Regions from separate parts of the Homo sapiens genome. Here region 1 is reported to be linked to region 2. Evidence: microRNA targets listed by miRTarBase, many of them from high-throughput screens and not tested one by one. Region 2 holds a microRNA gene; the other region holds the end of a gene's coding sequence.
What was found. The annotated mature microRNA hsa-miR-1244 reads AAGUAGUUGGUUUGUAUGAGAUGGUU and lies in region 2 at 2,006-2,031, opposite strand. An mRNA with a match to its seed (bases 2 to 7 or 8) in the 3' UTR can be bound and repressed. Matches are read on the target gene's strand: a 7mer-m8 pairs with bases 2 to 8, a 7mer-A1 pairs with bases 2 to 7 and ends in A, and an 8mer does both.

Region 1 (3,338 bases), not on the chromosome of region 2:
GGGCGGAGGGTGTCCCCAGGTTGCGGAACCCTCTTGCACTGCTCCCAGCGCGCACCTATTTCCCTAATGAAACGCTTCAGATTGCGTTCTAGGTCTCTTCCCGCAGCTGCGACAATTCCCCCAGCCGGGAGCGGGAGCGGATGGAGCCAGCGTAATTGATGGCAAGAAAGAGGCTGAGGTCCTGTTTGTCTCGGTCCGCAAACCCGATTGAGTTCACCTTTCCCCGGGACAAGTAAACAGACTTCAAACTATGCCGACTGTAGACGGCGAGGAGAAGAATGTATTTGATGGAAACTCCATCCAATGCAAAGATGATAAGGCCGAGGGTGCCACAGCCTACTAAAATTGTGACTCCCAAAGGCTTCCTCCCAGCTAGAATGGGGTGCGGGGCAGCCGCCAGAACCACAGCCGGGCACCGCCAGCCAGGTCCCCGCCCGGGCTTGGGCTAGGCTGGGGCAGGTTAAGCGAAGCTCCAATTCCGTGGGATCCGGACCTAGAGCCAAACAGCAGCTGCAGTATCCATGTCCCCTGCCCGGCCGGCCTGAGCTGGGTGCCTTAGCCACCTACACTCCCGGTCCCGGAACCACAGCTGACCATTCCAACGCAAGTGGTCAAATTTGTTTGTTTTCCAAAACGTGAGACCTGTTAAAATCTCCCTTCCCCGCCTTCCAACAAGCACTCTCACTAGACCCAACCATCCTCTTGGGAATCTTCGAGTCCCTCTGGCTGTTGGAAACTGTGTCTCAGCAGTGAGGCCCAGGTTTCTGAGGGAGAAAGCCCGGCCTAGCCCACAGTCTTAAGGCACCACGCCAGAGGAGGCTCCAGGAAGTTAACAAAGAGGACTGCTGGGCCCGGAGCGAGGACTCCGGCCAGTCTGCTTTCCTCACAAGCTCTTGGTGGGGGAGCGGGAGAGAGGGATTGGGAAGAGATGCAGACGAATAACGAAATGAGAGAGGGGAAGAGAGGAAGAAAAAGAAAGTTGAAAACCTGGGCGAGAAGTGAGTACATGCCAAATAAGAATCAATTGCCCATAATCCAATACTTCCAGGCCTAGAGGAAAGTGCTGGGAGGGGCGTCTGCCCGCAGCTGGCTCAGCTGCCTTTCGACCGGAGATTTGGCAAGGGTGACCCGGAAGGGCTACAGCCCATCCAGGGGACTACAATTTTTCTGTGTTCAAAACCATTCCTTCTCCCCTCTCTCTCATCCCTAATGGGTCTCCCAACACAAACACTGAGCGCTGAGGAAACCAGGAAATTAGAGGTTGGAAGAAAGGAATCAAAAATGATTTATTATTTATTTATTTTTTTTGCTTGGCGTGGGAGGTAGTGGCTGGGAGGTGAAGAACTGTAAACAGGAGAAAGATTCATTACTACAAAAATTTAGGATCCCAGAGATAAAACCCAGTACAACAAAGAGTGAAATCTCAGCTCCCAAAGTCCTTCCTGGGATGTCCTCAGGCCTGTCACCCAGTGTTACCCCGTTGGAGGCCAAAGGAGCCAAAAGCAGCAGGGGCTGAAGGCGTCTGCTGCTGGTCCCCTAGAGGGGTCCCTGTTTTAGGACAGAAACAAAACCCCTGAATGACTTCCTTACTTTCGAAAACAGCCTCCCATCGAATTCTGTGAAGGAGCTCAGCCACTGATTAGAAATAAAGGTTTGATGTTCAAATCTACAGAGGTGATCCATTCACTGAAAACCATAACTCACTCAGACTGATTTAAAATGGGTGTCCTCTCTCACTGTTTTAAAACTTTGGCTCAGCTTTGTGAGACCACAGTAGACAGTTCTGAGACTCCTATCAACAGAAGTCTGACTCAGAAAATGAATTATTTGGTCTCTTTCTCTTCCTCTCTCCCTCTCCCTCTTGGTGGAAGTAGTTTGGTATTTCGGTCCTCCACTGCAGTCTCAGGACTGCTCAAGATTTGTTTCCACACAATTTCTGAGGCAGAACAAAACTCCCTCTTCCTGTGGGGCAAGGACTCTGGGCCTGGCCTCCTTACCTCCTTAACCGGTTCAGAATCCTTTGAGCTCAAACCCAAACAATTTGAATCTCATCAGACCAAAGACAAGATCCTCCCAAGCCCCCGCCCCTCAAAGCCATTTAAAGCCAAATCAAAACAAAACAAAAAGGAGGGTTTTAATCAGAAAAAGAATCTTTTTAATTTGTATAATTTATTAGAAGCTTCTTAGGAACTATATTTAAGCCAAATATCTACATAAGTTACAACAGAAAAAGACTGACGCCGCAAATACCAAACTGCCAAATAATATACACAGATTTGTCAATGCCCATAAAAAATGTGAAGGGCTGGGGACTGGGAGTGGTTTTTCTTTTTACAACAAAATGTACAGATTACTAAAAACTAGGCATTTAGTCCAACTTTTGACAGCGTTTTACAGCTACAAGTTCACATTAAACAAACTATTTTCGCGGAGGGCGGTCGCCGCTGAGCCTAGGCGGCCAGAGGGTGCCGGGGAGGGGGCACTTCCTTTGTGTCAGTGACAAGTGGGTTATGTTGAAGACTCTTTCCTCTCCCCAGCTCCCGTCCTCCCTTCAAAAAAAAAAAAAAATCCTGGTATTTACAAGCGAGTCCTCTTTGCTGGCAGAGTGTGCCCAGAGTGAAGTTTGGTCTTTAGAGTCCAGAGCCATGTCAGCACAGAGCCCTCTCCAATCTGTGCCCCGCCCTAGCGTGGAAAACCCATTTGAATCACCAAAAAAAGACACCCCAAAGCTGTTTTATGCCCTTCTCTGCTTAAAGATTCCTTGAGATTGGATGCGCTTGGTTGTTTTTCATTTTCTTTTTTTAAAAAAAAAAACCCACAAATTTTAGGGGGGGAAAAAAAGAAAGACGTCCAGCAGTTTGGCCTTTGTGGTTTTTTTGTTCCTTGGTCTAAACGCGGCCAGGTTGTTAAGAAAAGTCGAAGCGCGTGGAGCAGCGGTGGATGGTGGTCTGTGTGGCGGGCAGGAGGGAAGCGGTGAGGCAGAGCGCTGGGCTAGGGCCGGCCCGGCGTCCTCTCACCAGGTCCGACCGTATAGCAAGGTGGAGCAGGACATGGTGCCGTAGTCCGAGCCCGAGGAGTTCAGGTGGGACAGGCTGGATACCTGGCCCTGCAGCGCCGCGGGGCTGGCGGCGTGGTGCGCCAGGTCCGGAGACTGGCCTGCGCTGCCTGGCTGGTGGCCCGGGTGTGCGCCAAGGCCGGCGCCACCGCTGCCCACGGAGATGGCCGCTGCCGCCGCCTGCGCGGCCTGCGCCTGGTGCTGCGCCTGCTGCTGCGCGTGGCCTTGTAGGCTGGCGGCGCCCGGCGCGGGGGCACCCGCCTGGCACGGTTTGCCGTCTTTC
Region 2 (3,399 bases):
ACTCTGTGGTTCAAGCGATTCTCCTGCCTCAGCCTCCCGAGTAGCTGGGATTACAGGCATGTGCCACCACACCCAGCTAATTGTTTGTATTTTTAGTAGAGACAGGGTTTCGCCATGTTGGCCAGGATGGTCTCGATCTGACTTTGTGATCCGCCCACCTCGGCCTCCCAAAGTGCTGGGATTACAGGCGTGAGCTACCACGACTGGCTACCACTTGACTCTTTAATTAGTCAATTCCAATACCTGTTCTAGAGAGGTACTTATACATAATGCATTTGAGGCAATGAATTGTATTACAAGGTAGAGTCCATTGAAGCCCAAACGCCTATGTGGTATCCTATTCCATGGAGATACCTATTCGATGCTTCCTTCCCCCTAAGCCCTTGCTTCACTTTCCAAAGAAAATAACTGTCAAAAAGGAGACAGCCCGATGCCCATCTTACATCACAAGCTGCATGGCAGACAAGAAGTGATTATCTTGAGGTCTTTTGACTTCTGATCATCCTACCAAAAGCTCCCCCACTACCATTACTCAATTGAACAGGCTTGAAGATTCTCGTCTTTTGTCCAGTAATTGAAGTTCCTTCTTGGGGATTCCATGGGAAGGAAAGGGTTAGGGTCCACAAGTATGCAGTGCTATGATTCCTAACTGCAGATACATATGTAACAGGAAAAATTTTAATACCTCAGTTTCTCTAATCTAGGTTATTCATATTTTCTCTTCTTAGGTCAGCTTTAGTTACTTGTGTCTTTCAAGGAATTTGTCCATTTCATCTAAGTTGTTGATTTACTGACATAAAATACGTTCTCTATCCTTTTAATGTCTGTTTTTGTTTCAGACATTGGTAATTTGTGTCTTCTCTACTGGGACTCAAAACGTAGTACCTAAAATATGACACCTCGGAATACTATTTTGAGCTGAAGGAATTGGAGAAAAATCATGGAAGCAGGATTCCTTCATCATTCTCACCTGAAGCAGTTTATAAACCTGGGATAAGTTTTCTGATCTTTCCCTTAAGCAGGTCTCTCGTGTGAGAGGTGCCCTCTCTACACCTGGAAGAGAACATTCTTATCTCTAAAGACAAAGTGTTGGCTGGGTGCAGTGGCTCACGCCTGTAATCCCAGGACTTTGGGAGGCTGAGGCGGGTGGATCACCTGAGGTCAGGAGTTTGAGACCAGCCTGGCTAACATGGTGAAACTGTCTCTACTAAAAATACAAAAATTAGCCAGCCGTGGTGGAGGGCGCCTGTAGTCCCAGCTACTCAGGAGGCTGAGGCACGAGAATGGCATGAACCTGGGAGGAGGAGGTTGCAGTGAGCTGAGATCGCGCCACTGCACTCAAGCCTGGGTGACAGAGCAAGACTCCGTCTCAAAAAAAAAAAAAAAAAAGTCACAAAGAAATCTAAACTTAGGTCTTGCTAAGTTTCCCCCAGTTATTATGAGATCATACCCTTTATGTCCTATCATATTTCTCCACAACTGTCTACTCTTCATCAAACCTACTACAAAACACACTAACACTTATCTGTTTCTTTGGGTCTTCATTTCAATATGAAGACTCCTGTACCATATAAAACATATTAAATAAATTTGATGGTTTTGTCTTTCTCCCTCTTTTTTTCTTTTCTTTTCTTTTCTTTCTTTCTCTTTTTTTTTTTTTTTTTGTGGAGACAGGCTCTTGCTCTGTCATCCAGGCTGGAGTGCAGTGACGCGATCTTGGCTCACTGCAACCTCCACCTTCCAGGCTCAGGTGATCCTCCCACTTCAGCCTCCCGAGTAGCTGAGACTACAGGCACACACTACCACATGCAGCTAATTTTTTTGTTGTTTTTTTAGAGATGAGGTTTTTTTTGTTTTTGTTTGTTTTAGAACAGCTCAGCAAAATAAAATTCCTGTTTATTGTTGGACAACATTGTTTCACACATACATCAAACAGGCCAAAAAAAAATAAACAGCAACTTCACAGACAAGGAAAAAAAAGAAACCTTTTATCTTTGGCCTTTTTAACCATCTCATACAAACCAACTACTTATAGTACAGCTAAGTACATACACAAAAAAGTTACTGGAATGCTCGGAATAAGATGGTTTTTCTGTTGTCATTTTTGCATTTTTTACAAGTTTTTTTTTCTCCTTTGAGATTATAATGAACATGGCCACACCACAAGTAAAGTGAGAAGTAGGACAGAGAACGCTCCGAAGGCTGGTTTGGTCATCCGAGATCATTAAAAATGGCCGACCCTAACAATATGTACAAAAATATAAAATGTAAATAAAAAATACAAGTTTCCTTTTTAAAGTACTTTTAAGAAAAAAAAAGCAGGGCCTTGGAAGTTTTGGTTCTTTTTCCCTCCCCTGTTGCAAATTCTCATGGTTTGGGTTGGGTGGTGGAGAGCGCGTGTCATCTGCGGGTGGCACTGCCCACGGTGGGCGGGCGGGCCCCTCTACTCGAAGGTGACCACGTTTAGATTCTGAGACGGGAAGTGGAGGGCGAATAGGTCACGGCGGCCTTTTTTTTTTAGTTTAACTTTTCCTTTTTTGCTGTCTGGTCATCCTCGTCGGTCTTCTGCTTCTGGGTATCGACATCGTCATCCTCATCATCTTCAGCTGCCCGCTTGCCCGTAGCTGACTCAGCTCCCTCATCTTCATCTCCGTCCTCTTCCTCACCATCACCTTCTTCCTCCTCCTCTTCCTCCCCACCTTCTTCCTCTTCTTCATCTACCTCGTTGTCAGCCTCCGGCTCCCCATTTTCCTCATTAGCATTCCTGTTAGCAGGGGCGTCTCTTCCATTTTCCGCCTCTTCCACAACTTCCTTCTTCTCCTTTAAGTCCTCGGTGGTGATTTCGGAGCTGGTGTCTACGGCTGCGTCTGACATGGTGGGGCACGCCGGTGACGCGATGCAGGGGATAAAAAAGAAAGCGAGAGTTCAGGGACTCTGGCGATAAAGCTGCCGGAGTCCGCGGCGGCGGAGGAGGCGCGCGGCGGAGGCGGCTGCGGCGAGCAAGGAGGCTGACGAGGCACAATGCAAAGATGGCTTTTCAGAGCAGCCAGTGGGGAGATGAGGTTTTACCATGTTGCCTAGGCTGGTCTTGAACTCCTGGGCTCAAGCAGTCTGCCCACCTCAGCCTCCCAAAGTGCTGGGATTACAGGTGTGAGCTACTATGCCTGGCCAAAAAATCTACTTATTTATAGCTCCATCCCCACCCCATTTGGTTGTTTGTAACAAAGTTATATCTTTATCCATGTTCCCCGAAACATAAACTAATAATTATTTTAAACACATTAGAATTTTAAATTATGGGCCGGGCGCGGTGGCTCACGCCTGTAATCCCAGCACTTTGGGAGGCCGAGGCGGGTGGATCATGAGGTCAGGAGATCGAGACCATCCTGGCTAACAAGG

Region 1: the mRNA of NKX2-1 is a reported target of hsa-miR-1244. The part of its 3' UTR that is shown has no 7-base or 8-base seed match.

What each region holds. Positions count from the first base shown.
Region 1 is chr14:36,514,265-36,517,602 of GRCh38, forward strand. NKX2-1 (NK2 homeobox 1) reads right to left here. Exons shown (of 3, transcript NM_001079668.3): 3 at 2,133-3,338. The coding sequence ends at 3,014. All of the region lies in intron 1 of SFTA3 (surfactant associated 3), which reads right to left. Among named protein-coding and RNA genes, the nearest start is that of NKX2-1-AS1, 3.3 kb to the right of the region's middle. RefSeq lists enhancers at 377-1,004, 3,227-3,338.
Region 2 is chr12:12,110,638-12,114,036 of GRCh38, reverse strand. It overlaps MIR1244-4 (microRNA 1244-4), which reads right to left and starts at 2,085; the gene lies at 2,001-2,085. It also overlaps the pseudogene PTMAP9.